Linked DNA regions of Homo sapiens. The protein of the gene in region 7 purifies or fractionates together with the protein of the main gene of each other region. This does not show direct contact. Each region holds a gene or a part of one and is shown on either strand. Other genes may lie near its edges. The genes, in order: URGCP, ADAT3, NSUN2, ME1, DNPEP, PAWR and TOM1.

The links.
Region 1: the proteins of TOM1 (region 7) and URGCP purify together in Homo sapiens (co-immunoprecipitation; one large-scale study listed by IntAct). This does not show direct contact.
Region 2: the proteins of TOM1 (region 7) and ADAT3 purify together in Homo sapiens (affinity purification with mass spectrometry; one large-scale study listed by BioGRID and IntAct). This does not show direct contact.
Region 3: the proteins of TOM1 (region 7) and NSUN2 fractionate together in Homo sapiens (co-fractionation; one large-scale study listed by BioGRID). This does not show direct contact.
Region 4: the proteins of TOM1 (region 7) and ME1 fractionate together in Homo sapiens (co-fractionation; one large-scale study listed by BioGRID). This does not show direct contact.
Region 5: the proteins of TOM1 (region 7) and DNPEP purify together in Homo sapiens (affinity purification with mass spectrometry; one large-scale study listed by BioGRID and IntAct). This does not show direct contact.
Region 6: the proteins of TOM1 (region 7) and PAWR fractionate together in Homo sapiens (co-fractionation; one large-scale study listed by BioGRID). This does not show direct contact.

The regions. Positions count from the first base shown.
Region 1 is NC_000007.14:43,896,090-43,900,437, forward strand, and holds part of URGCP (up-regulator of cell proliferation), read right to left. Parts: intron 1-4,348. UniProt on the Homo sapiens protein: May be involved in cell cycle progression through the regulation of cyclin D1 expression. May participate in the development of hepatocellular carcinoma (HCC) by promoting hepatocellular growth and survival.
Region 2 is NC_000019.10:1,907,730-1,911,351, reverse strand, and holds part of ADAT3 (probable inactive tRNA-specific adenosine deaminase-like protein 3), read right to left. Parts: intron 1-3,622.
Region 3 is NC_000005.10:6,615,713-6,620,060, forward strand, and holds part of NSUN2 (RNA cytosine C(5)-methyltransferase NSUN2), read right to left. Parts: intron 2,313-4,348; coding exon 2,238-2,312; intron 1,146-2,237; coding exon 1,015-1,145; intron 1-1,014. UniProt on the Homo sapiens protein: RNA cytosine C(5)-methyltransferase that methylates cytosine to 5-methylcytosine (m5C) in various RNAs, such as tRNAs, mRNAs and some long non-coding RNAs (lncRNAs).
Region 4 is NC_000006.12:83,427,976-83,432,853, forward strand, and holds the start of ME1 (NADP-dependent malic enzyme), read right to left. Parts: upstream 3,077-4,878; 5' UTR 2,980-3,076; coding exon 2,902-2,979; intron 1-2,901. UniProt on the Homo sapiens protein: Catalyzes the oxidative decarboxylation of (S)-malate in the presence of NADP(+) and divalent metal ions, and decarboxylation of oxaloacetate.
Region 5 is NC_000002.12:219,374,728-219,378,760, forward strand, and holds part of DNPEP (aspartyl aminopeptidase), read right to left. Parts: intron 296-4,033; coding exon 128-295; intron 1-127.
Region 6 is NC_000012.12:79,617,571-79,621,918, reverse strand, and holds part of PAWR (PRKC apoptosis WT1 regulator protein), read left to right. Parts: intron 1-711; coding exon 712-843; intron 844-4,348. UniProt on the Homo sapiens protein: Pro-apoptotic protein capable of selectively inducing apoptosis in cancer cells, sensitizing the cells to diverse apoptotic stimuli and causing regression of tumors in animal models.
Region 7 is NC_000022.11:35,306,081-35,310,428, reverse strand, and holds part of TOM1 (target of Myb1 membrane trafficking protein), read right to left. Parts: intron 1-4,348.

The DNA.
Region 1 (4,348 bases), on a different chromosome or scaffold from region 7:
TTCTCATTCACAGGTGGGAGCTAAGAAAAAAATTGAGTGAATGGAAGTATAGAGTAGAATTGTGGTTATTAGAGACTGGAATGCATGGGAGAGGGGAGGATAGGGAGAGGTTGGTTAAGATACAAAATTACACCAGGTGCGGTGGCTCACGTGGTCAGGAGCTTGAGACCAGCCTGACCAACGTGGTGAAACCCTGTCTCTGCTAAAAATACAAAAATTAGCTGGGCGTGGTGGCACACGCCTGTAATCCCAGCTACTTAGGAGGCTGAGGTAGGAGAATTGCTTGACTCGGGAGGCGGAGATTGCAGTGAGCCAAGATTGCGCCACGACAATCCAGCCTGGGCGACAGAGAGAGACTCTGTCTCAAAAAAAAAAAAAAAAAAGATACAAAATTACAGTTAGGTAGGAGAATGGGATCTGGTGCTCTGTAATTCTGTAGGGTGAATATGGTTAACTACAATTTATTACATACTTAGTGTCAAAGAACTAGAAGATAAAAAAGTTAGTACTGTGTAAGTTTCCCCATACAATGGAAAATAGAGCTTTAAAACACAGCCTTAATTCTCCAACAGCTTACATTACCATTAAGTTGGAGAGAGAGGGGAACACTCACTGCACAAACAGTAAACAAACAAAAAACACTACAAACACACATATACTAACCTATAAAATGAGGCTGATCATCCCTGACACACATGCCTCAGATGTGCTACAAGGATCCAAAGGGACTTACATACATCTTAAGCAAAGTTCTCTTGGATTTATCTACATATTTATTGTGGACTTATTATTATTTATTATTTATTGTAGATTTATCCACATATTTATTGTTCTCTTGGATTTATCCACATATTTATTGCTAGGAACCTTTCTAGGAATTTAGGATACATTAATGAGGACACAAAGGTTCTGCTCTTGGTTTACAGTTCAACAAGGCAAGGGGATATTGGTAATCAACAATATCCCCTATATTTAAGAAGTGTAGGACTTGTAGCCCCAGCTACTGGGGAGGCTGAGGTGGGAGGATCACTTGAGCACAGGAGGTTGAGGCTGCAGTGAGCCGTGATCCTGTCACTGAACTCCAACCTGGGCAACAGAATGAGACTCTGTCTCAAAATAAATAAATAAATAAATAAATAAAAATTTAAAAGGCTATGCTAGAAGATGTTAAGTGCTACAGAGAAAACAAGGCACAGGCCAAGGTCAGGTGTGCTGAGAATGGTGGTGGGGAGCGCAGAGCAGGTTGGCTGGAGAAAGGGCCGTGTTAGTACTGGTTTGGAAGGAGGTGAAGGCAGGAGCTATATGACTACCAGGGGAAGACTGCCGCAGGCATAGCCGGGGCAAAGGCCCTAACGTACCCAGGGACCAACAGGGAGGCCCGAGTGGCTTGAGCAAGAGAGTGATCAGTGAGTAGGAGAAGGCAGCAGGAGAAGCTAGAGACGACTGAACTTTACAGGCCACAAAAGACTAAGGCTTTGGGGAGGAAGAGGAAGAGAAAAAAAATAAAAATAAAAAAGATTTTTTAAAAAAAGGTTCTGGCTGTTCTTATTCTAGAGGATGGGGTAGCCATGAAAGGGCCCTGGGTGCAGGGTGACAGGCCTGTCTATGTTACCGGCTGCCAGGCTGAGAATAGACAAGGGATCACAAACGCTCCATTATCTAGCCTTATATTCAGGAAAACAACAACAAAGGCTCAGACCTGGGCAATAGTACCAGCAGCAATGGCATGTGGCTGGACTCTCAAAAGCATCTGTGAAGGACTGCAACAGACTGCACAAAGTGTCTACAGACACAAGCCAAAATAAGTTCAAGTTTTCCAGGTTCAATCAGTTGCTCCTGTCTCAGATAGGGAGGTCTGTGGGTAAAGCAAGACTTGAGGGAATCGTGAGCAAATTGGCACTGACAGACTGGCCCGAGACCCCTACCCTTGGATATGCTAAGCCAGCACGTGAGCTGGAAGGGGTTTGGAGAGCTAATAAAGGCAATCCTTCAACGCGTATAGGAGAGACCACTGTCGGCAACTTCCCTAAAGATACATGCTCTACAACCTCCACCTGACACCACAGTGTACTCACAACAAAGACAGAATCAACTTGCATTTTCTCCATAATGCAAAGAAATGATGGTGCAGGTAGACCTGGAAAACCCAAGAGATCAACCTGAAAACTATCATAAACAATGAGAGAATTCAGTAAGCCGGGGACATACAAAGTTAAAATCAGTAACTGCCTTCCTATTATACAAATAGGTTAGAAACAATGGAAGGAGAGAGCTCCGATTTGTAGTAGCAACAAGAAAAATAATATGTTACAAATGTGCAACACCTATTTGAGAAGAATTTTAAAATACTGAATCTGATTAAGACTTGAAGAACTGAAAAGGGCTGGGCACAGTGGCTCATGCCAATAATCCCAGGACTTTGGGAGGCCAAGGTGAGAGTATCACTTGAGGTCAGGAGTTCCAAGCCAGAAGTTCAAGACCAGCCTGAGCAACACAGTGAAACCCCACTCTACAGAAAATTTAAAAATTAACTGGGTCCAGGAGCATGTGCCTTAAGTCCAGTTATTCAGGAGGCTGAGGTGGATCGCTTGAGCCCAGGAGTTTGAGGCTGCAGTACACAGCAGCCTGGGTGACAGAGCAAGAAGACCCTGTCTCAAAAATAAATAAATAAATAAATAAATAAATAAATAAATAAATAAATTTATTTTAATTTAAAAGAAATCTATTTCTGGATTTTCAGAGAGGAAAGAGTTAAAAAAAAAAAAGGCTGGGTGTGGTGGCTCATGCCTGTAATCCCAGCTCTTGGGAGGCCAAGGCAGGCAGATTACCTGAAGTCAGGAGTTCGAGACTAGCCTGGCCAACATGGTGAAACTGTTTCCACTAAAAGTACGAAAATTAGCCAGGCGTGGTGGCGCATGCCTGTAATCCCAGCTACTCGGGAGGCTGAGGCAGGACAATCGCTTGATCCCGGGAGGCGGAGGTTGCAGTGAGCCAAGACTACACCACTGCACTCCAGCCTGGGCAACAGAGTGAGGCTCCATCTCAAAAAGTGTATATATATATTTATATAAAAATTTTTATATAAATATATATTTATAATATATGCCTTATTATAATACAAATATAAATATTTATATTTATATATATAATAAAAAATGTTTAAAGGAGTATTCTATCTTAGGCAGAAAGGCTTAATTTTTTTTTTTTTTTTTAAGAGATGAGATCTCACTATGTTGCCCAGGCCAGTCTCAAATCCTGGGATCATGTGATCCATCTGCCTCAGCCCCCCAAAATGCCAGGATTATAAGCATGAGCTACCATGCCTGGCCTTTAATATAATTTTAAAAGTCAATTCTCTCTAAATTAACCTATAAGTAAATTGAGGTTCAAAACCAGTTGATTCTGTGAAAAAATATTTATGAAATAACAATCAGGAAAATTTTGAAAAAGAACAGTGAAGGACAAAACTTTCCAGAAAATAGAACATAATAATTAAATAGTCTAAAATAATTTAAGGTTGCTCATGAATATACAGAGAAATCAGTAAAAGGAGATCCCAGAAATAGGTCCAAATGCAGTCAAAAATTTCATCACTGATCTAGGTCGCTTTGAGTATCTGGAACTTATTCAATCACAAAAACCTGGAAAAAAAATTAAGGTAGGTCCCTACCACTTCATTCACCCAAATGAATACCAACTGGATCTAAGATTAAGTTTTTAGTGCCCTAAAAGAAAGTATTAGAGACCCTAAAAAGTCACAATAGGCTAAGTGTGGTGGCTCACGCCTATAATCTCAGCACTTTGGGAGGCTGAGGTGGGAGGCTCTCTGGAGCCCAAGAGTTCAAGAACAACCTGGGCAACATAGTAAGACCCTGTCTCTACAAAAAAAATTTCTTAAAATCCACAATAGCCAGGTGTGGTGGCATGCGCCTGTAGTCCCAGCTACTCAGGAGGCTGAGGCAGGAGGAATACCTGAGCACAGCAGATTGAGGCTGCAGCGAGCCATGTTGTTGCCATTGCACTCCAGCCTGGGAGACTCAGCAAAACTCTGTCTCAAAAAGAAAGAAAGAAAAAAAAAAGTCAGCCGGGCGCGGTGGCTCATGCCTGTAATTCCAGCACCTTGGGGAGGCCAAGGCAGGCGGATCGCTTAAGGTCAGCGGTTCGAGACCAACCTGGGCAACATTGTGAAACCCCATCTCTACTAAAAATACAAAAATTAGCCAGGCATGGTGGTGCACGCCTGTAATCCCAGCTACTCAGGAGGCTGAGGCAGGAGAATCGCTTGAACCCAGGAGGTGGAGGTTGAAGTGAGCTGAGATCACACCACTGCACTCCAGCCTGGGCGACA
Region 2 (3,622 bases), on a different chromosome or scaffold from region 7:
AAATATCAAAAAATTAGCTGGGCGTGGTGGCACACACCGGTGGTTTCAGCTACTCGAGAAGCTGAAACAGGAGGAGCACTTGAGGCCGGAAATTCAAGGCTGCAGTGAGCTACAATCGTGCCACTGTACCCCAGCCTGGCTGACAGAGCAAGATGCCATCTCAAAAAAAAAATGAAAACCCGGGCACGGTGGCTCACGCCTGTAATCCTAGCACTTTGGGAGGCCGAGGCAGGCGGATCACAAGGTCAGGAGATCAAGACCATCCTGGCTAACACGGTGAAACCCCGTCTCTACTAAAAATACAAAGAATTGGCCAGGCCTGGTGGCACGCACCTGTAGTCCCAGCTACTAGGGAGGCTGAGGCTTGCAGGAGAACCCAGAAGGTTGAACCTGGGAGGCGCAGGTTACATTGAGCCGAGATCGCGCCACTGCACTCCAGCCTGGTAACAGCGCGAGACTGTCAAAAAACAACAAAAAAGCCAGGCGTGGTGGCTTAAGCCTGTAATCCCAGCACTTTGGGAGGCTGAGGCGGGCAGATCATGAGGCCACGAGATCGAGACCAGCCTGACCAACATGGTGAAACCCCATCTCTACTAAAAATACAAAAATTAGCTGGGCATGGTGCCACGCACCTGTAATCCCAGCTACTCAGGAAGCTGAGGCAAGAGAATTGCTTGAACCTGGGAGGCAGAGGTTGCAGTGAGCCGAGATCGTGCCACTGCACTCCAGCCTGGTGACAGAGCGAGACTCTGTCTCAAAAAAAAAAAAAAAAAAAAGACACCTCAAAAACCAAAAACTATCAAGTGTCCTATTCAGTGGCTCTTAGGACACTTGGAGTTGTGCAACCATCACCACTATAAAATTCCAGAACATTCCATCACCCCTAAGAGAAAACTTGTCTCACCACCCTACAACACACACAGCAACCCAGGCAACCACTGATGTGATCTCTGCATCTCCAGAAGCCAGAGCCTGGAAGCAGAAGCGGGGACAGGCGGCGCCTGGCTTCCAGACAGAAGGGCCATGTGGCCAGGAACTGAGCAGGACCCTTGGTCCCCCGGCCGCAAGCTGCTGAATTCCGCCAACGCCTGCGTGAGTTGCAAGCAGATGCCACCCCCGTTGAGCCTCCAGATGACAACACAGCCCTGGCTGACACCTGGGTTCCAGCCCGGTGAGACCCCGCAGAGAGGAGCCAGCCATGTCACATTCAGGCCCCGACCCACAGAACCGGGAGCTGGCGGGTGTTGTATTAAGCCCACAGATGCACGGAGTCTGCTATGCAGTGACAGAAAGCAAGCATGCCAAGTGTGGGGGACACGGGGCCCCCTCCCAGAACAGCACACAGCCTGGCACTGACACGGAACACCCACCTCCAGTGGTTTCTGTAAACACTCGCCCCCTAGTCGGCCAAGGGCTAGGAAAAGAGAGACCTCAGAAGACAAGCCACGAAACGTAAGCCCCGGAGCGCAGCCCCTCCCCTGGTGGGCCCGACTTCCCATCCCTTGACCACATTCCTGCAGCTGTGGTGGGCCCTGGCTGTCGGGTGGAGCAGGCAGCCACTGGGGTGTCCCTGCTTACTCAGTCACAGAGGAGGCCCTGGCTGGAGTGGGGCTGCGGGAAGAGCTGGGATCACTCCCGGGGCTCCTGCTAACATCCCTGACTGCCGGGCAGTGTGCCAAGGCGGCTCTCGGGTGAGAACCTCCCGGCCTGACATCACCAGCACTGTTACCATCCCTGCCGCTGGCACAGGTGAGGACATCCCTGCTGCTGGCACAGGTGAAGACATCCCAGCCACTGGCACAGGTGAGGACGGGAGGCAGTAAAGCCGTTACCATCCCTGCTGCTGGCACAGGTGAGGACAGGAGATAGTAGAGCCATTACCATCCCTGCTGCTGGCACAGGTGGACATGAGGCAGTAGGGCCACTCCACTGGAGAGGAAGGGCTGGTGGGGCCCCCAGCTCTCGGGATCCGCCCATTAGAAGGGAGCCTGCCCTAGGCGGGCAGACAGCACAGCAGAGAGGCAGGCGTGGGGACAGCCAGCCTGCAGGGACTGCTCACAGGGCCCTGGGGGACAGCGCCTCTGGCTCCCACATCTCTGGCATCCACCCCACCTGAACACCCCCAAACCACAGTCTCAGCTGGCCAGCCTTCCCCCACCTGCATCTGCCCCCACAGACTCGCACCGCAGGCCTGAGGTTGGATTACAGGCGTAAGCCACCATGCCCAGCCCACATTTTTTTTTTTTTCAGACAGAGTCTCACTCTGTTGCCCAGGCTGGAGTGCAGTGGCATGATCTCAGCTCACTGCAACCTCCACTTCCCAGGTTCAAGCGATTCTCCTGCCTCAGCCCCCCTAGTAGCTGGGAATACAGGCACATGCCACCACGCCCGGCTAATTTTTGTATTTTCAGTAGAGACGGGGTTCCACCATGTTGGCCAGGCTGGTCTTGGAACTCCTGACCTCAGGTGATCCACCTGCCTCAGCCTCCCAAAGTGCTGGGATTACAGGTGTGAGCCACCGTGCCCAGCCCACATTGCTTAAAAGTATAAATTAGTTGGGCACGGTGGTGTGCACATGTAGTCCCAGCTACTCAGGAGACCAAGGCGAGAGGATCACTTAAGCACAGGAGTTTGAGACCAACGTGGGCAAGATAGAGAGACCCTGTTCCTTTTTTCAAATAAATAAATAATAATAAAATCCTAAAAACCTTACTACCTGTGTGCTCACAGTTATTTCTAGCAGACAGTACTGCCTCAGATGGTGCTGGGGCTAAGCCGCAGATGATCTTAAAATGACTCCAGCCGGGTGATCCTGAACTGCCAGCCTGGACTACACATCCCCGCTGGTATGGACGGCTCCTCCCGCAGACAGGGATGTGTCTCTGGATCATTTCGCAGCCGCGCAGCTGTGGGTGCTACTCCTCGACATGCACTGCCTGGTCCACGCCTCAGCCGCCGGGGCGCCCCACAGATGGGGGACCAGCAGCCAGTGGAACTCCAGGCCAGTGGCCTTGGAGGTCACGCTGAAGCGGCCCCAGCGCTGCCCGAAGCTCACGCGTTCAACAAAGCACAGAACCGGAGATGCAGTGGGAGCCGGGAGCAGGAAGCGCGGAGGCAGCGCCAGGTGCTGCCGCTGCCCGAGGCCCCGTGCCAGGTGGGGCCCATAGCAGCCGACTCGCTGGGCCCTCCCAAAACGCACACCACGCGCGACCAGGACCGAGAGGCCCGCACGGCCCTGCTAGGCCACAAACACTCCACTGTCTCCAGGGTAAAAGACAAACACAGCCTCGCTTGTCCCTCCAAGAGTACAACCTCTGTCTGATGAAAAACAAACGACCCAGAGAGGAGGCAGCTGCCGGGACACTGCAGGCTGGGCCCGCCGCGCCCTTGGAGGGCAGGTCAAAATCCCGGAACAGGCACAGTGTTCAGGCTGATTGACTGTCCCAGGCCAGGGCGGCCTCAACTGCCAGAGCACCTCCTACCTACCTGCTATGGCCCGGGGGGACGACTCACTCCCACAGCGACTGCCCCCCAACAGCAGGGGGCCACCTGACCCTCCCTCTACCACACCCACCCAGAAGGCAGGCGACCGACCACTGGGACCCCTCAGGAGGGCAGGCAG
Region 3 (4,348 bases), on a different chromosome or scaffold from region 7:
AAGGCCTCTCTCACTGACTATGCACCAACTGACTTCACACACGTGGGTGCAGGAAACATGCTAAGTTTGAAATTTCTCATTATTGGCTCTAAGGAAAATATGATGGGAAAAGTTAACATTCTGGCAAAACATAAAAGGAGAAATATTTTATATCAATACACTGTAGAAATACACTACTGTTTCAGAATATTCTGTACTATCTGTCAGTTCCTCAGTATAAAACTGTATGAGGTGACCTCACACCCATTAGGATGGCTACTAACAACAAAGAGCCCCAGATAATAAGTGTCCCTGAATGTGTAGAGAAATTGGAACCCTTGTGCACTGGGGGTAGAAATACAAAATGACGCAGCCACTGTGAAAAAAAGCATGGTGGGGTCCCCCCAAAATTAAACACAGAATTACTATATGATCATATGATCCAGCCATTCAACTTCTGAGTGTATATCCAAAGAATCGTAACCAGGATCTTGGAGAGGTATTTGTATACCATGCTCACAGCAGCATGGCTCACAACAGCCAAAAAGTGGAAGAAACCCAGATGTCCATCAACAGATGGATGGGTAAACAAAATGCGGTTTATATAAACAACAGAATAGTGTTCAGCCTTAATAAGCAATGCAATTTTGACACAGACAACAACACAAGTGAGCCTCAAGGACGCTGCAGTAAGTTAAATAAGCCAGTCACGAAAAGACAAATACAGTATGATTCCGCTTCTGTGAGGTCTAGAGTAGTCAAAGTCATACAGACAAAAAATAGAACGGTGGTGTGAGGGGCAGGGAAGAGAGAGATGGGAGCTACTGTTTAAAGGAGTTCAGAGTTTCAGTTTTGCAAGGTGAAGATTTCTGGAGATGGATGGTGGTGGTGATTAACAATGGGAATATACCTAACGGGACTGAACTGCAGGCTCAAAAATGATTAAGATGGTAAACCTCACGTTATGTGTATTGTACCATACACATATGAAAAGCCCCCTATGCTGTTAATAAAAGATCCATCAAGCGTGCTTACCTTCACTTTTTTCCAGTAAAGATGCTATGACTGCTTCATCCTCAATAGGGTTTAGTGAACACGTGGAATACACCATCCTTCCACCTTCAGCCAGCTGTTCAGCCCCGCGTGTTGCAATCCGCAGCTGTAAGCTAAGGGGAGATATCAGATGACTGCAAGGCCAAATGTATCCATGAAGTGCACATATTAGAAGCACCTCCTTATGTCACATATTCATTACAAGCTTTTATAACACAATTATACTTAAAAAAAACCTTCCAGGGATCTAAATGAAGTTAGAGTAAACTTATATAAAGTGTTTCATGTTAATAAAAAAAATGTATTATATAAATATTCTTACTGCTCTGTTAACCTTTCCCAATATGTCAACCAGCAGAGTATAAAGTTCAGTAACAACAGAATTCAATGTATTAGATGAAATTTCACTATTTAAAAAACCTCCATACTTCCTAAATATGTGGTTTTTCTATGAAAAATTGGTATCATACATTCCAGTCCTAACTCTTGTCTCTGTGTCACAAAACAGTAGACAGTATTTTATGGAGACGAGGCCTCCTGCTATAGTTGGTTGTGGTGGATGCTAATTAGTATTCTGTGGCTCAGGCACAGTACAGTCCTGCATGCAAGACCATGGCATTTGTCATGTCAAATGAAAAAAAGAATACACTGCTCTACAGACAGCATGATCAAAAGTATTTGGAAAAAGTACTTAAAAAATCCCTGTAAACAGAAAAACAATACAACACACCAAACATTAACAGACGTGATCATCGTGTTATGAGATTTCTCTTTAAGAATTTTCCAATTGTTCTTTAATGAATAGTTCCCCATCATAAAAAGCCAACCGAAAAATATTTCTAAGAGATCAAAATGTCTCTTAGCAAAACGATGATACAAAAGAACAAAAACAGAGAGAAAAGATTAGTAATGCATACATCAAGAGGTAAACGGTCATTTCATGGAAAAATACATATCTGAAGTGTTGCAAGAAATTTTTATAGAAGGCATTTTTAATAAACGTGTTATCTGAAATGTATACAATTTGCAGTTATTGCTCTTGAAAGGTTTTCAAATAACTTCTGATAAAACAGTTGAAGGTGGCCATTGACCATCCTCTGATGCTTACAGCTCTCTAATTAAAGATCGGATGCTCACTTGCATAACAATAAATCTCTGCTGATCTACTTGTCACACAGTGTTAGCAGTGATGAAGTTTTACTTACCCATGTAGCTGCAAGCTATTTAAGGTGGTCCACTTTTTCCAAACATCAATGTTTTTTCTCATAGTGCCGTCTCCACTGGAAAAAAGATATTTATGAGTGCAAAGCTCCCTACAGGTGGATGACTGCACTTTAACAGATATGTCACATACAAGCTAAGTTACAAAACAAGTGTTACAAATATCAGTTAGGAAACAATCTCCATTTTCACCAACTGCAATCTGCTTTCAGCTTTTGTTTTAGGGATTTTCTAATGTATTATAGTTTTAAATTATACTTCAATTTTCAAGCAGAAAATAATGGATTTGAACAGTAAACTCCATTCACTAAGGAGATATTAATGTGCTTCCATTTGGAAAAAACACTAGCAAGACTAATTTGCAGACCTAGGACACAGAACCTAAAATACTATTGAAAATCTCAGTTAATCAACAATGACACTTTAATCAGAATTACATGAATAATGACTAATAAGAAATTTTCCACAGTTAAGCTAATATATTAGCTAAATTTTTCCTACAATCACAGGTAAACATTTCTGACTTTCTACTTTTATTTAATGGAAGTTATTTTCATGTTTTTCAGAACCTAAAATACTATTGAAAAACTCAGTTAATCAACAATGGCATTTTAATCAGAATTATATGAATAATGACTAATAAATTTTCCATAGTAATTTCAATTAAGCTAATATAATAGCTAAATTTTTCTTACTAATAGCTAAATTTTTCTTACAATCACCGTTAAATTTCTGACTTTCTACTTTTATTTAATGGAAGTTATTTTCATGTTTTTGTTAATGGAAGCTCTTTCCATGTATATTTTATAGTAAAGACTGGATTTGTTACTTTCTGTGTCTAATTTTATCTGCCCTGTTTTCCCAGAAGGTAACGCCTGTTTTTGTTGGCTTTCTCTGTAAATGCTGATTTTCCTTGATGGTCTAGCCGCGTGTACACGAGGGACTAGGTCTGCAGGATGGAATTATCCCATGAGATGTAATCCCCACTTTGCAATGGCATTCCTGGCTGTACACTAGTTGTTTGCATGGTAGAAATCCCACCACAATTTCAGAAATTTCCCCAGCTTGCAACCTCTTGCTCATAAGGTCACTGCGTTCTCAGATCTCAGAATATGATACAAGGAACGAGTTATCTTTCTGATCAAAAAACAGGGGTAGGAAAACATGAGACCCCAAGGAATACTGAAAAATTGCAACCTAGAGGAAAAAAAAACTTTAGTTCATGATGTATTTTAAATTTTACTTTAAAGAGGGCTTTTTCCAGATTATTTTAACACTCAGCTATATTCAGAGCCACCAGCTGCAAGTTTCATACTGAGTTTTGCCATGAGCAGTAACTCTGCCACTTACTGAAACAAAATGGCATTCTTCCATAATGTGGTATCGTATCTAAAGCTTGCATTCTGTGCTAACAAGTTTTGTGGCAGCTTTTGAATTCTGGTCTTGACAAACTTATGTCATTCAGAAGTCATTATCACCTGGGATCATCATCCGTGCACCTCCTATGGGAACGGAACAGATGATGTCTTTAGTTTTGTTTCTTTCCTTTTAAAAAAACTTGTTACTCAGTTATACCATGAGTATTATTTTATATCTAAACTCTAAATATCTAAAATGTTGATGTATTATCTCAAGAAAGGTATAAAAACACAAGCAAAATGAATTTCTTAAGGGCTTGAACTCCGAAATTTCTTTCATTCAACTAAATAACATAAAATCCAATGTGATTACGTATTATTTTATGACAAAGTTTTTTATATACTGTACTCACTGGAAGAACTAATACAAAATAGTTGGGGTGCACAAATTGTTCCAAGCAATAACATCCTAAAACACACCACAATAAGAGTCTACGATTCTATTTTCCTCTTACGTATTTTCTCTGTTTTGTTTTGTTTTCTCTTTATCTTTCTGCAGGCTATTGCAACCACCCCTTTCTGTTCTTTATCCAGCATCTGCTGTGCTGCTTCTCATTAAGACGTATCTACGTGTCCATCTTTTGGTTTAGGCTCACGCTATCTTTCTCCGCACCCCAAGACTTATGTACAATTGTGTCATATTCATGCACAACTTCATTTTAGTCTCTATTTGACTT
Region 4 (4,878 bases), on a different chromosome or scaffold from region 7:
CACTCCAGCCTGGGCAACAGAACAAGGCTCTGTCTCAAAAAAAAAAAAAGGAAAATAAAAAGACAAGTTAGTAAATACAAAATTATATAGTACAACTGAATACATAAAAACAGAGGTGTTAAATAATAAGACTAACATAACTAAGAAATGCTTCCCTAGAAAGATCATTATTAAATCAACTAAGACATTTTCATAGTAGAAATTACACACAAAAAGGAAAGAATTAAGAGATTCAGCAAATATATTTTAAGTGGAAGCCTACATTGGGGAACGAATAAGATAAATTTGGAGAAGACTGTAAACCCAATTGACAGACTGATTTTACATTAAACATAATAGGAAATAATAACATACTATAAATGCTTGGATAATAGAAAAGTGAAGAAAATGTTAATTAATGAAGGTGTCTCTTTCATATATATATGTAGAATGAACTATATCAATGGAAATAAAACCAGCAAAACTGTTGTTGCAGCTACCCAAAGGTAAATGATGAAGTTCTGTGTTAGTGTGGTTGAAGAAGACATGTGACAGGCTGGGTTGTTGAGGGAAGTAAAATCTACTCTTGTCTCTTTGGAGCCAAGGTTATTACAAAATAATAAGAATAAAAATAAGCCAAAACATTCCTGAGCTACTAGCAAAATTAAAGGCCTAGAGGTCTTGAATGTATGACAGATGAAGAAAGTCCCATAGCTGTAGTTTCAATGGTACATAGGAAACTCTGTTACTCCCATAAGGTACCAGATAACCATCCTAGAACTGAGTAAAAGATTATTCCATCGATTGCCTCCAAGTTGGTACACTGGATTGTGGATCCAATTTGACATAATGCAGATAAAAAGTTCAAGTATTACAAATTTGAAAATGTGCTTTTAACATATTAATGTTACATCTTATCTTTGATAGAAGATCTTTGTGATACTATTATTCTGAAGTAGGAATTAATCCTTAATTCCTAGTAACCTTGTGAACAGGAGTCACAAGGATTGTTATATCATAAATTCTTGGCTGGGCGCGGTGGCTCATGCCTGTAATCCCAGCACTTTGGGAGGCTGAGGCGGGTGGATCACGAAGCCAGGAGATCGAGACAATCCTGACTAACACGGTGAAACCCAGTCTGTACTAAAAGTACAAAAAATTTGCCGGGCATGGTGGCGGGCGCTTGTAGTCTCAGCTACTCGGGAGGCTGAGGCAGGAGAATGGCGTGAACCCAGGAGGTGGAGCTTGCAGTGAGCGGAGATCGCGCCACTGCACTCCAACCTGGGCGACAGAGCGCGACTCCGTCTCAAATAATAATAATAATAATAATAAATTCTTGATGTAAGCATAGTAAAGGCAATAATTACTCTTGCTCAGGGATTGCTCATGCCATCTACATACTCTTAATAGACACTCTTGCCCCCAACTTGAGGAAAATCAAACAGGTTATACAACTCATGTGGTCCTTCTTAAGTGTCAACCCACAACTTGGTCATAAATTACAGTAGGCAGGTGACACATACAAGTCACAAATAGTTTTGTCACATCAAATTTTACTTTTGTTCTACTGAAAATAGGTGGCAAACCTGCAGAATAATAAAAGAAAAGAAAAAACAATCAAACTAGCAATTAAATTTATTTTAAAGAAAGAAATAAGTTGGAATTATTTACAATTTAATAATGCTACATGACGGCAGATAGCACACAGTCATAGATTTGTAAAAGGTGCCTGTCACCACACACACAAAAAAAATCACTCACACTGACTATAACTTGTTAAATAAATCATGTCTTTAAGTCATTAATATGATCAACAAATCATCAGGAACACGACAAGGAAAAAGCTGAGCTTCTGTTCTTAATGTGAAATGCAGTCCACCAAAGAGACAACCAAAATAACTAAACAAACCTCTGTGCTGACTGATGGCATTTTCAGACTCCTGAATAAATAGGAAATGTCCAAAGCGCACGCACACACACACACAAAAGGAACAATCCCGAGACAAACCTGGCTGTAAAATAAGTGTGGAAGCAAAATGATAAATTCGGAGGTATTTTTTATTTGAGAGACATCCCGAGTGCTTATATTGCATCACCAGTGAAGGAAAATGAAATGTTACCAGGATCCGAAAAGGAGTCTCTGAACAGGGTGTACACTGAATTCCCCTTTAATAAAAAGAGAGCAGCTCTAAACAAAATTTTTTTTTAACTTCCAGAAAGCCAAATTAAAAACAAAACAAAACAAAACAAAACAAAAGAAAGAAAGAAAAGAAATGGCTTTACCCACAGTCCCATGTCTGGGACAGAGTTCTTCTACCAAGCCATGCAAAGTGTCCAAGACAGAGGCCACCCACCACGCATTCCCAGACTCTTAACCGTGTCACTCCAGAAACCGAGAGGACTTGGATTTCCAGATTGCTAACGTGATCTGAAGGCACTCAGTACACGTTTCTGTCTGGGCAGGACCAGTTGAGCCACTTCTCGCCTTATCAACTTCCAATAATTGCCACACTGTGTGTGCAACCAGTAAGTGAGTGGCACATGGAGTCTGACCTGGCACTCCATTCACACACTTTGTCTGATACTACTTTCATTGTCTGGGCTCTTGTTTTTGGAGAAGAGCTGCCGAAAAGTATCACCTTTTCCTCTATCACTAACCTTTACCTTTACCTCTATCCCTAACATGGGATGCCGAGGTGCAGAGGCACCAGCACTGCCCTGCCATCACTCTAGTGGATACGGACCCGATTAGGCGTCCTTCTTCCTTCTGCCCACACCAAGGCCCCCCAGGCCGCGGCCGCTCACCGGGAACCTTCCCAGGGGAGCGGCGGAGGGGCGAGGCCATGGTGCGGGGACCTGCAAGAGGGCCCTGACCCTGATAGAGAGGGGCCGATGGGCGGCCAGGTGGGCCTGCGGGTTTACCTTGTTGAGGTGAGGGTTCCGTGTCAGCAGGTAGCCGCGCTGATGGGTGTGGCGGCGACGGGGGGCTTCGGGCTCCATGGCTGGCGCCGGGTTCGGCGGCGGGGTCAGGCCGGGGCGGGCCGCACGCGCGGTGCAGGCGGCGGATGCTGCTGGGGTGACGGTGCTGACTGCAGCTGTGGCGGCGGCGGCCGCACTGGGAAAGGCCCAGCGGCTGGGGGCGGGCGTGGGTGGCGAGAGGGGGTGGACGCGTCGGGAGGGGCCCGAGCGAAGCCGGTGTCCCCAGCAGGGCAGCCTGCGAGAAGCGCTGAGTCATGGCAGGAGATCATCCGAGCCGGCGTGTGAGGAGGAGGAGGAAGAGCGAGTCCTGGCAGCGCTGCTGGTGGCGGAGCGGGGGTGGCGGCCGGAGCCCTTGGCTCCATAGGGCCTCTGCCCACCATGGGCTTATGATCACCGCTGTGGTCGCCTCTCTCCATGTGGGCATGCCTAAACGCAGTGCACTGGGTGGCTCTGCTGACCCCAGAGACCCAGGGCGGGGGCAGGGAGCGGGGAGCGTCAGGCCAGGATCCCCCTGCCCGGGAAGGCTGGAGAAAGTGCGAGAAGATGCCAGAAGGTGCGAACCTGAGCGGTTCAGGCAGAGCCGGCGGTCGCTCAGACACCTAGGGGGATTACAGGACGGAAGGACTCGTGAGGGGTCCCCAGAACTGTTGACAGAACACCTCGACAGGCTGAGGAGAATCAGACTCGTCTCTCCTGTCTTGTTAGCGTCTTGGAAGCCCTCTTTCTACAGATCCACAACCTTCGCCGTGCCATCCAGGATGCCGGCCATGCCCGGGGCCCTGAGGCCGGAGGGAACCAACCTTGACCCAGAATGCCGAGGCCCAAGGGAACTGGGAGGAAGCCCAGAGAGGAGAGCTCAGGCGCCACACCTGTCAGTTTCTACAGATTTTCCACCGGAATTGTATTTGAATGTCAATAAGATAAGAGTCAAGGTGTTAGGGTGCAAAGGCCCAATGAACAGTCCTGTTTATCTTGTATATTATTTCTCTGGGAGTTCTAGAAACCTGATGTTCAAGAACCACTGCTCTCTCTGAATAATGATGAGTAAGCAGTCTTTCAGGCCTTCCTCCCAACCTCAGGTGATCCGCCCGCCTCCGCCTTCCAAAGTGCTGGGATTATAGGTGTGAGCCACCGCGCCGGGCCATTTTTTTATTGTTTTATTGATATTTATGCTTGGAGGTTCATGGACTGGAGGAATAGTCAGATCATAGCCAAAAGGAGTGCCTGTCTGATAAAAATAAATTAATAGCAACAGACACTAAAGCCTTCTGTGCCCCAGTTTCCTTTTCAGTTAAATAGGATTGCTAGTTTCTGTCCCATTTGTCTCTGCATACTGATATTACAAAGGATAGTGTTTGAGATTATTTGCTGATTTTATATCTCCATATACTAGACACACATCCAATCACAGTGTTTTCATTTCTAGTTATGTTAACTTTGCCTTATCAGAAAGATTTCTTACAGTAATTGTATTTTGTCCGTATTTACATTTAGAAGCTTCTTTGACCTCGCCTGAATTATCTAGAATTCGTTGTTTTTATAGAGAATATTTTCTAGGCATCACAAAGTTCTTTTTGAAAAAAATCCTTGAAGTTAAATGACACCTTTCATTGTTAATTCTATACTCCATAAATACTCAATCCTACAACATCTAAGAAAAAGGTGTACTTTACACAACTCACTCTCCTGAATTAACTGAGACACATTACAGTTAGGGTGTTTTATGTGAGAGGAAACAGTTTAACAGCTGGCATGGGAGCCAATTCAAGCTGCTTAAGAAGAAACAAAAATGTTAGTACAACAGACCCTTATTATAATAAAGTACTTATTACATGAATTTAGATATACTACCTACCTGTTCCTGTTTCTGAGATTTAATATCTACAGATAGGAAAAGTGTTATAAGTACAGGGAGTAACC
Region 5 (4,033 bases), on a different chromosome or scaffold from region 7:
CAGCATGACAACCAGCCCCCATTACTCAGGCCAGTCACTTTGTGATGGCGATGTTGTCCCAGCAACCAATCCAGGCACTAGAGGGGAAGCAGCCCAGCTGCCAGAGAGGGTCTGGGGTGGGTGTTACCTTGAAGAGGGTGAGGGTCTGGAGGACTCCTGTGGTGCAGGCCATCTCCCGGATAGAGTGCATGGCCAGTTGGGGGCTGCCTAAATCCAGCACCCGCAGCCCCAGCCGAGAAGCCAAGATAGGTCCAATGGTGGTTCCACAGGGGGTGTCATTCCGGACCATGAGATCCTAGGGAGAGCAGGAGACCCATGAGCAACATGCAGTGTGTGCTTATCAGAGCCAAGGAGGACGCCATCTTAGAATTGCAGGGTGGGAAGGGGCCTGGGAGATGGTCCATTCGGAGCATAAAATCAAAGCCAATGCTAAATGGCAGACCCCAAAGGACAATATATTCTGAATTGGTCCCATTCTATCTGCATTGCCACCACCCTAGTTCCAATCCATTCTCCACACAGCAGGAAGGGGGATTTTTAAAAGTATCCATCCTTGTCACCCTCTTGCTTAATATCCACACTCACAGAAAAAAATCACTCAGTGGTATCAGTGTCTTTAAAAATATTGCTACTGACATTTTGAAATGATTTTCTTTATATTATGGTAAAAAAATAAGAAAATGAAAATATGATGCTAGATATCAAGGTTTTCAGTGTAAGAGAAAACAGAATTACAAAATCAAATAGGTAGTAACTATTTAACTAAATAAGAATAATTTTATGAATAAGAATTACAGTATTAACTCATGATTTTTATTTAAAAATTTTTATTTTATTTTATTTATTTATTTTGAGATGGAGTCTCCCTGCGATGCCCAGGCTGGAGTGCAGTGGCGCAATCTCAGCTCGCTGCAACCTCTGCCTCCTGGGTTCAAGCGATTCTCCTGTCTCAGCCTCCCAAGTAGCTGGGATTACAGGCACGCACCACCACGTTCAGCTAATTATTGTATTTTCAGTAGAGACGAGATTTTGCCATATTGGCCAGGCTGTTCTCGAACTTCTGACTTCAAGTGATCCACTACCTCTCAAAGTGCTGGGATTACAGGCCTGAGCTACCACACCTGGCTTCATGATTTTTAAAATATGTACTTTTTTCTTGCTATGTCCATGGAAATGGACCCAAAGCACCGTCCCCTCCCCCAAGAACAATGAACACTTGCAGTGCCAGGCTATGGTCTCTAATACCACTGCTTGCCAAAAACTACCAAGTCTGGGGGGCGAAATGAACAAGACATGTCTACAATTTTTGTTGTGCCAAAAAGCAAGGAGACTTCCAAGAGTCAAAGGGCACAGGAGTTATGCTGAAGGGGCTCCCACTGGTCAAAGCCATGGCAATTCACAAATCAAATATAATAATTATAGAGGACACTGAATAAATGAAATTCCATGATTCTAAGATAGTCAGAAAGGGAAAAGCAGGCCAGGTGTGCTGGCTCACGCCTGTAATCCCAGCACTTTGGGAGGCCAAGGTGTGCAGATCACATGATTCCAGGAGTTCAAGACCAGCCTGGCCAACATGGTGAAACCCTGTATCTATTAAAAATACAAGAAACAGCCGGGCATGGTGGTGCATGCCTGTAATCCCAGCTACTCAGGTGGCTGAGGTATGAGACTCTCTTGCACCTGTGGGGAGGAGGTTGCAGTGAGCTGAGATTGCGACACTACACTCCAGCCTGGGCAACAGAGCGAGACCCTGTCTAAAAAAAAAAAAAGAAAAAGAAAAAAAAAGGAAAAGGAAAAATCTTTCTTTGTCACTATTTGAGACGACATTTCACCTTGAAAAGTGGATAACAGAAAGAATTAGCATTTATCCTGCTTTCCAATCAATAGGAATGATATTCCATGATAACCAAAGAACCCTAGTTGATTGGAGGGAAGAAGTTCCACTTCACAGAAGAATGGAAGACTGAAAGAATTCAGGGGAAGCGGGCATTTTTCGGTAAATTCTAATGAAATTACTGATTTAGACAAGGATTATTGTAAGTGTTAAAACCATTAGGTATCTGGTTAATAGGGAACTCATCACTTGTATGGGTCACTGTCAGGTCAATAGGGGAAAAGCACTATATAATGAAAGGATAAGAGGCCATTCCTGGTCCAGTGGTCAATCTTTGCAAGGCTAAGGGTGGCCCACCCAGATATCATGTGTGTGATGCCATATGAATACACCAGCCATGTCTTCTAGCCCAAAATGTTTAACTTGAGGCTAGGCACGGTGGCTCACACCTGTAATCCCAGCACTTTGGGAGGCTGAGGTGGGCGGACCACTTGAGGTCAGGAGTTCAAGACCAGTCTGGCCAATATGGTGAAACCCTGTCTCTACTAAAAATACAAAAATTAGCTGGGCATCGTGGTGCACACTTGTAATCCCAGCTACTTTGGAGGCTGAGACAGAAGGATCACTTGAACCAGGGAGGCGGAGGTTGCAATGAGCCGAGATCACGCCATTAGACTCCAGCCTGGGCGACAGAGTGAAACTCTCACTCTGTCAAAAAAAAAAAAAAAAAAAAAAAAAAAAGTTTAACTTGAATCCATCAAGTCTTTAGAAATTCCAGTTGATAGGAAATACGGGGCTTACAGACAAGCTAAATGACACCATGGGGCAGCAAGGAGACATATCCAGAAGTTTCTTGAATAAGCCAATGCTATTTAAAAAGGGGTGGGGGGAACTGTGCTACACTGGAAGACATTTAAGCAACATATCAGCCAAATATAACGCATTGTCCTGAGTTGGATACTAGGGTGGGCCAAATACCTGTAAAAAAAATATTTTGAGGATAACTGGGGAAAACGGAAAGTGATCTGTGCATTAGATGAGGTACAAGTTTACTGAAACAACAATTTCCTGAAATGGGGTTGGGAATGGTGGCTCATGCCTGTAATCCTAGCACTTTGGGAGGCCAAGGTGGGAGGACTGCTTGAAGCCAGGAGTTCAAGACCAGCCTGGGCAACATAGCAAGAACCCCATTTTTACTAAAAATAGAAAATTAGCCAGCATGGTGGCATGCATCTGTAGTCCCAGCTACTTGGGAGACTGAGGCAGGAAGATCTTCTGAGCTCAGGAGTTTGAGGGTGCAGTGAGCTATGATCATGCCACTGCACTCCAGCCTGGGAGACAAAGCAAGACCCTGTTTCTAATTTTAAAAAAACATTAAAAAAAAAAACCAAACTCAAATAGAAAGGTGAAGATGACTGAGTGAAAAGAGGCAACAAAAATATATCCAATATAATATCATTTTAAAAAAGTGTATATGAAGTTTATGCATAGAAAAAAATCTGGAAGACTATACCAAATTTCTGCAGATTAGTGTTTTATTTTCTCATCTCTATCTGTATTTTCTAATTTTCTAAAATACATGTGTCCTACTTCTGCTGTAAATTATTAAAGAAAAATCTCCCAATGTCTTCTCACTGCCTTAGAATAAAATTGAAATGTCCTTCCATGGCCTAGGTATTCCTGTATCATCACTGAGCTGGGCCTCTCCCCTAACCCTCTCCTGCTCTCATCCTGGCTCTACCATCCTGCCTTTCTCTCCTCCTAAAAGACGAGCTCATTCCTGGCCCCCCTTGGGGCCTTTCTACTTGTGCCCTCTGGCTGGGACCCTCCCATAGCTGCCTATTTCTCAGTGGTTAGGTCTCAGCTCAAATATCACGTCCTCAGAGAAGGCTTCCTGGGGGCAGAACAATTCAGCTTTCCGAAAGGAAGAGTGAACACTGTGCAGCAGAAAGAGCCCTGGGCTGGGAGTCAGGATACCACGGTTCTACACCTGCTATGATTGTCACTGGACCGCCCATGCCTGAGTCCCTGATATAGAGAGGTAGACAGATAAATATAGAAATAGACAGTCATGCACTACATGGTGACATTTCAGTCAAAGATAGACTACATATGACAGTGGTCCCGTAAGATTATAATGGAGCTGAAAAATTCCTGTCGCCTAGTGACATCACAGCTGTTGCGATGTTGTGGCAT
Region 6 (4,348 bases), on a different chromosome or scaffold from region 7:
CAGCCCATGATGTGTATAATGGATAGAGATTTGTTTCTATTTTGTTTTTCTTATGTAGAAAGTGTAGAGTTAGATAATTTCTAGTGTTGCTTCTGTTTTTTAGCAGCCTTCTCTTGTAAGCTTTTCCAATATGCTGTTACATGTGTAATTCTCTTTTTTTATATATCTGCAATTCCAAATTGTAGCCATTCTTTAAATTACAAGATTTTTTATAGTCTTTTCTAACTCTCCAGGTAAAAATACTCTTCCTTTATATGCTCATAGAATATAAAGCTAGAAACTGGGCCTTTATCACTAAGTTATCTATCTATCTATATATATGTATTATCTTTCCTACTAGATTATAAATTCCATTTCTTTAATGCATCCTTTGTTACCTTCTGCAGAATGCCTTGTTTAAGGTAGACGTAGTTTACTTATTGAATGAATGATAAAGAATGAATAAACCTTTCCTTTAAGAAAACCCTGTCACTGATGTTTGGAGTTTAGGGAAAAGATTTGTTGGCAGTGGTGTGGATATGGAAGTACAAGTTTTAAGCAGATAATTTATAGGAATTAAATGTACATATTGCTGAAAGAAAAATACTTTTATTATGCAAACTAATTTCTGAATGCACAAATATTTCTTTAATACTATCAATATATTTTCACATATTATCGAAACAGTCTATTAATAGTAGAAATAAAATGGAAACTCTTTTTTTCTTTCAGTGCTTAGATGAGTACGAAGATGATGAAGCAGGGCAGAAAGAGCGGAAACGAGAAGATGCAATTACACAACAGAACACTATTCAGAATGAAGCTGTAAACTTACTAGATCCAGGCAGTTCCTATCTGCTACAGGTGAGTATTTAAAAATACCAGGAAGTCACTATCTATTTTAATGGCAATTTTTCAATTATGCCTCTTGAGTTGTATGTAGTAATATATCTCCCATTGCCTCCTTTCCTCCTACTTATGCCTTCCTTACCATAAGTGGGTTCTGACATCACATGTTGGGCTCACCGTAAGCATGAACACTCTCTTCACCCTTTTCCGGCTTGTGCATCCTTTGATAGGCTGTTCTGTAGGGCCTCTGTTTGCTCCTGCTGAGACTCGGAGAACTCATGTCGGATTGCTCCTCCATGGGGACTCTTCCTCAACTTGATTAGGTTTTGACAACTCCAGGCCAGACTGCCACTCCATGTGAACATTCACTTCATCCTGCCTGCGCTCTGGCACAGAATACCCCATGCCAGGCTGCCTCTTGGAGGGTAGACATTTTTTACCCTGCTAGAGCTCTATCACCCTTTTCTGAGCCACCCTCCTGTAAAGGTAAACTTCACATTCTACTTGGGACTCTGGCTGCCCCTTTATGGGACTCCCTTTCTGACCTTGCCTCACAAATGAGGCCTTACCTTCCCTGCTTTGTAGAAATCTTCTTCATTCTGCTCAGGCTCTGATTTCTTAGGTCAGGCTGAGTGAGCTGTGCTATGTGAGCAGTCTCCTTGGTTTGCTTGGACTTGAATTCTCTATGCCAAGCAGCTCTTCTTTATGACAGGTTCTGATACCCTGATCTGAGCCACTGTGTTTTCTCACGTTGCTCTGCCCTGCCTAATGGCTTTAGGACTTAATTATTCAGGAAAGGAAGGGGAAGGATGAGTTTTTCCTTTTAAAATATTTGTTAATTTGATAAAGCTCTTATTTTTCATTTTCTTATTTTATCAGTTATATATTAGAGAAATTTTATTCTGAAGTCATCTTCAACAATATATCATACTAAATTATACATGGCAACATAGATATTTTAAGTTAGTCCTGAGGGTCAGTTAGCATGTTATGCCATAATTTTACTGAGGGCTGTGGCTTTGTTGCTAGATTATTTGAATAACATCAGTATTACTTTGCTGTATTCATCTGACTTGTATTTGTCTGATCTTATTTCACCTATGCTGTTATACTTGTTTATACGTTAGAAGTTCTGATCTGCCACTGTACCTGTAAAGACTGTTTTCATGGGGATTTCCTTATTGATCTTTATAAGCTTGAATAAAGCAGAGCGTTTTATTTAAACTTACACAAAACAGTTTGTGCTTTGCCAACATTTTCTCAGCTCTACATAGATCTTTCCCCTTCCCTTTAGTAATAGAAACCATCCCATTGCAAGGAAGATTGTTTCAGAAAGAGTATATTTGAAATCAGTTGTATAACAGACTTAAGGATTTGGGGGAGATCTAATTACGTAGTCTTTGAAACTTTTAAGACCAGTACCAGTCTTAACAGTTGTACTTTTTACAAGCCGTTTCAATGATACTAGTATAGCAGTACCCCCATATCAAAGGGAGTTATGTTCCAAGACCTCCAATGGATGCCTGAAATCATAGATAGTACTGAACGCTATATATACTATGCACATATTTGTTTTTCCTTCCTTACAATTTCATGGATAGAAGATATGTTCTTATCATAAAGCTTAGCAACTTCAGGATATGATTTTTCTTTCTTTCGTTATTAAGCTGAGAATTTTCACCTTTTTACTTAAAGCAAGCACTTTACAGCTTCTCTTTGGCATATCAGAATTGCCAGCATCACTACTCTTGTACTTTGGGGCAATTATCAAGTAAAAGAAAAGTTAATTGAACACAATCACTGGGATACCACAACAGTCTGATAACCAAGGTGGCTCCCGAGTGACTAATAGGTAGGGAGCATAGACACTGTGGTTACATTTTACAAAGGGATGATTCAGGCCCTGGGCGAGATGGAGCAGGACAGCACCAAGTTTCATCATGCTAGTCAGGACAACTCACAACTTAAAGTTTATAAATTATGTCTCAAGTTTTCTATTTAATATTTTAATTTATTAATTAAAATACTAAAATTTTATCAATTAAAATTATTAAATAACAAATATTAAAAATTATTAATCTAGCTTTATTAATACCCATGGGTTGACCATGGGTAACTGAAACTGTAGAAAGTGAAAGCTTGGATAAGGGAAAAAGGACTACTGTATTTCTTCATTTTTTTTTTCCCTATTTAGTATGGAGTAGTAATTATTAAAGTGCCAAATAATTATATAGTTGTTTCTTTGCCTGGAAATTGTTGTGGCTACAGAAATATAGTTAAGACATCTAAGGTGACGTTTATATTTGTGTGGAATTTTGTTCTACCATGTAAGAATGTCAAGCATTTTCCTCGTTAAAATTATCAGGGACTTATTTCAGTGAACATAATGTCCTCTGCCGTCATCCATTTTGTCGCAGTGATCTCACTTATATGTGGAATCCAAAAAAGTCAAACTCATAGAAGTAGAGAGTAGAATGGTGATTACCAGAGGCTAAGGTAGATGGAGAAAGGAGAAACATTGGCCAATGGGTGCAAAGTTACAGTTAGATAGGAGGAATAATTTCTGTTTTATTGCACAGTAAGGTGATTATAGTTCATAATAATGTATATTTCAAAATAGCTAAGAGTATTTTAAATGTTCTTACCAGAAAGAAGTGATAAGGGCCTGGTGCAGTGGCTCATGCCTGTAATCCCAGCACTCTGGGAGGCCGAAGTGGGTGGACCACTTGATGCCAGAAGTTCAAGACTAGCCTGGCCAACATGACAAAACCCCATCTCTTCTAAAAATACAACAATTAGCTGAGCATGGTGGTGTTCACCTGTAATCCCAGCTACTCAGGAGGCTGAGGCACAAAAATTACTTGAACCTTGGAGGCGGATGTTGCAGTCAGCTGAGATCACACCACTGCATTCCAGCCTGGGTGACAGCGAGACTGTGTCTCAAAAAAAGAAACAAAAAAAAAAAGAAGTGATGAGTATTTGAGGTAATTCTGTATAGGTTGTTCTTTGCATTGCTATAAAGAGACACCTGAGATTGGATAATTTATAAGAAAAATAGGTTAAATTGTCTCACACTTCTACAGGCTACACAAGCATGGCATCAACATGTGCTCAGCTTCTTATGAGGCCCTCAGGGAGCTACTCATGGAGGAAAGCAAAGCGGAAGCAGGCACATCACATGATAGGAGCAGGAGCGAGAGAGAGAGCGGGGGCAGGTCCCATACTCTTAACCAGATCTCATTGGTGCTAAACCATTCATGAGAAATCCACTCCCATGATCCAGTCACCTCCCAACAGGCCCCGCCTTCAACACTGGAGATTACATTTCAACATGAGATTTGGAGGGGACATCCAAAATATATCAGACATATATGCTAATTACTCTAATTTGATCCTTCCATAATATATACATGTATTGAAATAAAAATATCACTTTGTGCCTTATACATATGTCTAATCATTATTTGTCAATTAAAAATAAAGCTAAAAAAATTATAAGGGACCTTTCACTGCACCATAT
Region 7 (4,348 bases):
GGCGTGTGCCACCATGCCCAGCTAATTTTTGTATTTTTAGTAGAGACAGGGTTTCACCACATTGGCCAGGATGGTCTCGATCTCTTGACCTCGTGATCCACCCGTCTTGGCCTCCCAAAGTGCTGGGATTACAGGCGTGAGCCACCGTGACCCTTTGAATACTTTTAAAAAGTACCACGTCCCTCCTTAATCTGTCCTCCAACATCCTCAGGACCTGTGACCACTCCACTCTGATAATGATCTCCAGAGCCTTCACCCTATTCTGACCGACCCCTCTGGATATAGGCCAGCCATGCTGTCCATCTGGAAATGCAGTGTGGGAACCCACACGCCACATTTACCTGTCCTTGCTAGATACTGTATTTCTATTACTGTACTCAGTGACTATGTGAAATTTTTATTAACCCTACCATGTGGAGCTGACTCCAATAGTTGTGGAAGATGCTCCCCCTGGGCTCACAGCATTTAGCTTTTCTAGACCCCCTTGCAGCCAGAAGTAGCCCTGGGACTTCTGGCCACAGAGATGGAAGCGGGTGTCTCTTGGGCGGCTCCTGGGGAAGGTTTTGCTTTCTTGGTAACAGAGACACAGACAGTTGGTACTTTCACCTGTGCTTCCTACCGTGAGAATGCAAGCACGAGGATGAAACCAATGTGGTCAAGAAGGTTAGGCAGAAATACAGAAGAAGCCACTACTGAACGAATTCATTCTAGATGGACACAGATGTTGTCACTCAAAGGGAAACCCAGCAGGTCTCTCAGTTCTCTCTCTTTTTTTTTTTTTTTTTGAGATGGAGTCTCACTCTGTTGCCCAGGCTGGAGTGCTGTGGCACGATCTTGGCTCACTGCAACTTCCGCCTCACCGGTTCAAGCGATTCTCCTGTCTCAGCCTCCAGGGTAGCTGGGATTACAGGCGCCCACCACCACATCCAGCTAATGTTTGTATTTTTAGTAAAGATGGGGTTTTACCATGTTGGCCAGGCTGGTCTTGAACTCCTGACCTCAGGCGATCTGCCTGTCTTGGCCTCCCAAAGTGCTGGGATTACAGGTGTGAGCCACTGCGCCTGGCCTCTTTCAGTTCTAAGGGGGAATCGGTGAGATGGAAAAGTTGGGAGGATGGGATGCAGACACAGACAAATCCTGCCCAGACTCCAGCACCTACCAGCTGTGTGAGCCTGGGTAACTCCTCGGCCTCTCTGTGCCTCAGTTCCTCCTCTACAGAATAAAGATGACCAAAGCACTCACCTTCCAGGGATGTGTGAGGAGGAGTGTATACATTTCAAGCACCAAAATAAATGCTATCCTCTACAAACATATCAACCACAACATGATTGAGAATTTCAAGCACCCCATAAGAGATTTTTAAATCACAAATATGCAGAAGCTATTTTTTTTTCAGCCAGAAACTTGTCTTGAAAACTATTTTCCAAAGGAATAACTCTTTCCAGACCCAGCGTGGAAAGTTCCATCCATCTCCTAATTTGCTGAGCCACCCTTCCTCAAAACCCTGGCTGCCTCTCCCCTGTATTTTTTTTAACCATAAACCACAAGAGAAACCCTAAAATACCTTACAGAGGGTATTGCTTCCGCAACCCACAATGTTAAAGTCGATGTAACTAACTATAGTACCTAACAAAAGGAAATGTCAGTGAGATAAAGAAAGGTTTTCTAAAACTCCCCAGGTAAGAAGTGAGGCTGTGAAGGCAGAGGCTTGAAGTGGCTGGCTGAGGTACAGATGGCATTTGTTTTCACTCCCCACTTGGGAGTGTAAAAGGTATTGCTGACAATCTGGATGGTCAGGGGTGGAGTGGGCTTTGTATTAGTCAGGGATCTCTAGAGAAAAGGAACTAGGCTGGCTGTGGTAGCTCATGCCCGTAATCCTAGCACTTTGAGAGGCCAAGGCGGGAGGATCACGAGGTCAGGAGTTCAAGACCAGCCTGGCCAACATGGTGAAACTCTGCCTCTACAAAAAATATAAAAATTAGCCAGGTGTGGTGGCACGCGCCTGTAGTCCCAGCTACTCAGGAGGCTGAGGCAGGAGAATTGCTTAAACCTGGGAGGTGGAGGTTACAGTGAGCCAAGACTGCCCCACTGCACTCCAGCCTGGGAAACAGAGTGAGACTCCGTCTCAAAAAAAAAAGAAAAAAAAAAAAAAAGAGAAAAGGAACTAGCAGAAAGAAAGAGAGAGAGAGAGAGACAGACACACACACACACACAGGAGAAAGAGCGAGCGCTTAAGGAATTGGCTTATGCAGGTGTGAAGGCTTAGCAAGTTGAAAATCTGTAGGGTGAGCTGGCAGGCTGGAGATCCAGGAAACAGATGCTGTCCAAGTGCAAGGACAAGGGGAGCCTGCTGGCCAAGTTCCCTCTTGTTCTGGGGAGGTCAGTCTTTTTCCTATTCAGGCCTTCAACTGATTGGACGAGGCCCACCCATGTTATTGAGGGCAATACGCTTTACGCGGGTCTGGTGATTTAAATGTTAATCTCATCTAAGGCATACGTTCACAGAAACATCTAAAATAATGTTTGACCAACTATCTTTCTCCCCTGGCCTAGCCAAGTTGACACATAAAGTTAACCACTACAGGGTTTATACTGCACCAACACAAACAAGTTCAAACAGTAGACCCCTCTGTCTGTCCCTAAATTCTCTGTCTGTCTCAGCCCCTGTGGTCTGGCTGGTTCTTCTCTCCCCCTCCCTTCTCCCCTGGCTCCGTCCTTCCCTTCTGGGAAGACTCCAGGCTCCGTCCTTCCCTTCTCTACCTTCCCCAGCAGGAGCGAGGCCCAGTTCCCCTCCTCAGGGCTTGCACAGTGGTTCTCCACCGCACTTTGCAGTGCTCTATCAACTTCTAAGTTTCCCGTGTCCCTTGAGGAGGAGACCTGGGGGACACAGCCGGGAAGGGGCGGAGCTGGCACCTGAACCCAGCTCTTCTGATGCGGAGACTAAGCTGTGACCCCATTTCAGGCTGCTTACGTCCCAGTGATCAAAATGAGCTACCTGGGATCATGCCAGGTGGGCTCATGGGCAAACTTAAAGACATTTTTAGAGGGACATTAAATTTTTCCTCTCCTGCATTATTTACTTTAATGCAGGATAGGAAAAAAACACGAACATCAAAGCCATGATTTCATGGATATAATTATATAGGATGAGGTCAAATTTTAACAGATAAGCTAATGAAAAGAAAACCCTACGAAAATAATAATGAAGGTGGCATGGGGGTAGACACAAATCACAAATGAGCTACATGAAAGACAGAAGTTTGGAGGGCACTGGCCTAGATCAAGATCTCCTTAGTAAGGCAGTAAAGAGTTAAACTGTCCTGAATCCCCCTGCTTCTCATGGGGTGATGGCCTCAAGCTAATTAGGAGACACTGAGGGTTTGGGTTTTTTTTTTTCTAAAACCAGAAGAGTGGAAGTCTGGGACTATACTCTTATTTCTTTGAGCTCACTAAGGGAATAAAACCTATTCACCAGTTCTATCCATAGGGGAAGGCAAAGGCCTTAATTTCCAAGTAAGAATCTGCTCCTCCCCACAGCCTGAAACCTGACCTGTCTGTGAATGTGGTGGCCACCCAGCCAGTGACCGCTCATTTGCCAGGGACACAAAGACCATCACAAAGGCTGCACTGGAGTCAGAATCTTGGGCTGGCACTTAGCTTGGCTACTAACTTAGACTGGGTCCCAGGAATGATAACACCAGTGAAAAATCACAACAGCTAATAATTACAGAGACTTCCTGTCTGGCAGGAAGTGCTTTATAGCACAACAACACGACAGCCCTATCTGATAGGTGCTATTATTATCCTCATTGTACAGACGAGGACATTGAAGAACAGAGAGGTTAAGTAACTTGCTCCTGGTAACAAAGCTGTTGAGGACTGAACCAGGACTCAGACCATTCAGTCTGACTCAAGCTCACCCTGGGCTCTACTAATATGTGTACAGCTGATACAAAGCCCTTTCTAGACAAAGCTCTGTCATCCTCAAGACAGAAACTTGGGGATCTAATGTGGGTCCTGTACTTACGGATCAGGAAACAGAAGCTTCAAGATATTAGGGCTCACATGGGCACACTGTGGGGATAAGCACCCTCAAGCATCCCCAGTGTGGGTGCTCTGGTACCCCACTTTGAGGAACAGTGTGCTCCATCATTCTGCCTCTGGCCAGCTGCTCCGATTCAGAAGTCAGCAAACTATGAACCCATATGCCAAATTCAGTCTGTTTTGTATGGTACTCGAGCTACAGATGGTCTTTATATTTTTAAATAGTTGGGAAAAAAAAAAGCTGAAGAAGAATAATATTTCATGATATGTGAAAATTACGTGAAATTCAAATTTCATTGCCCAT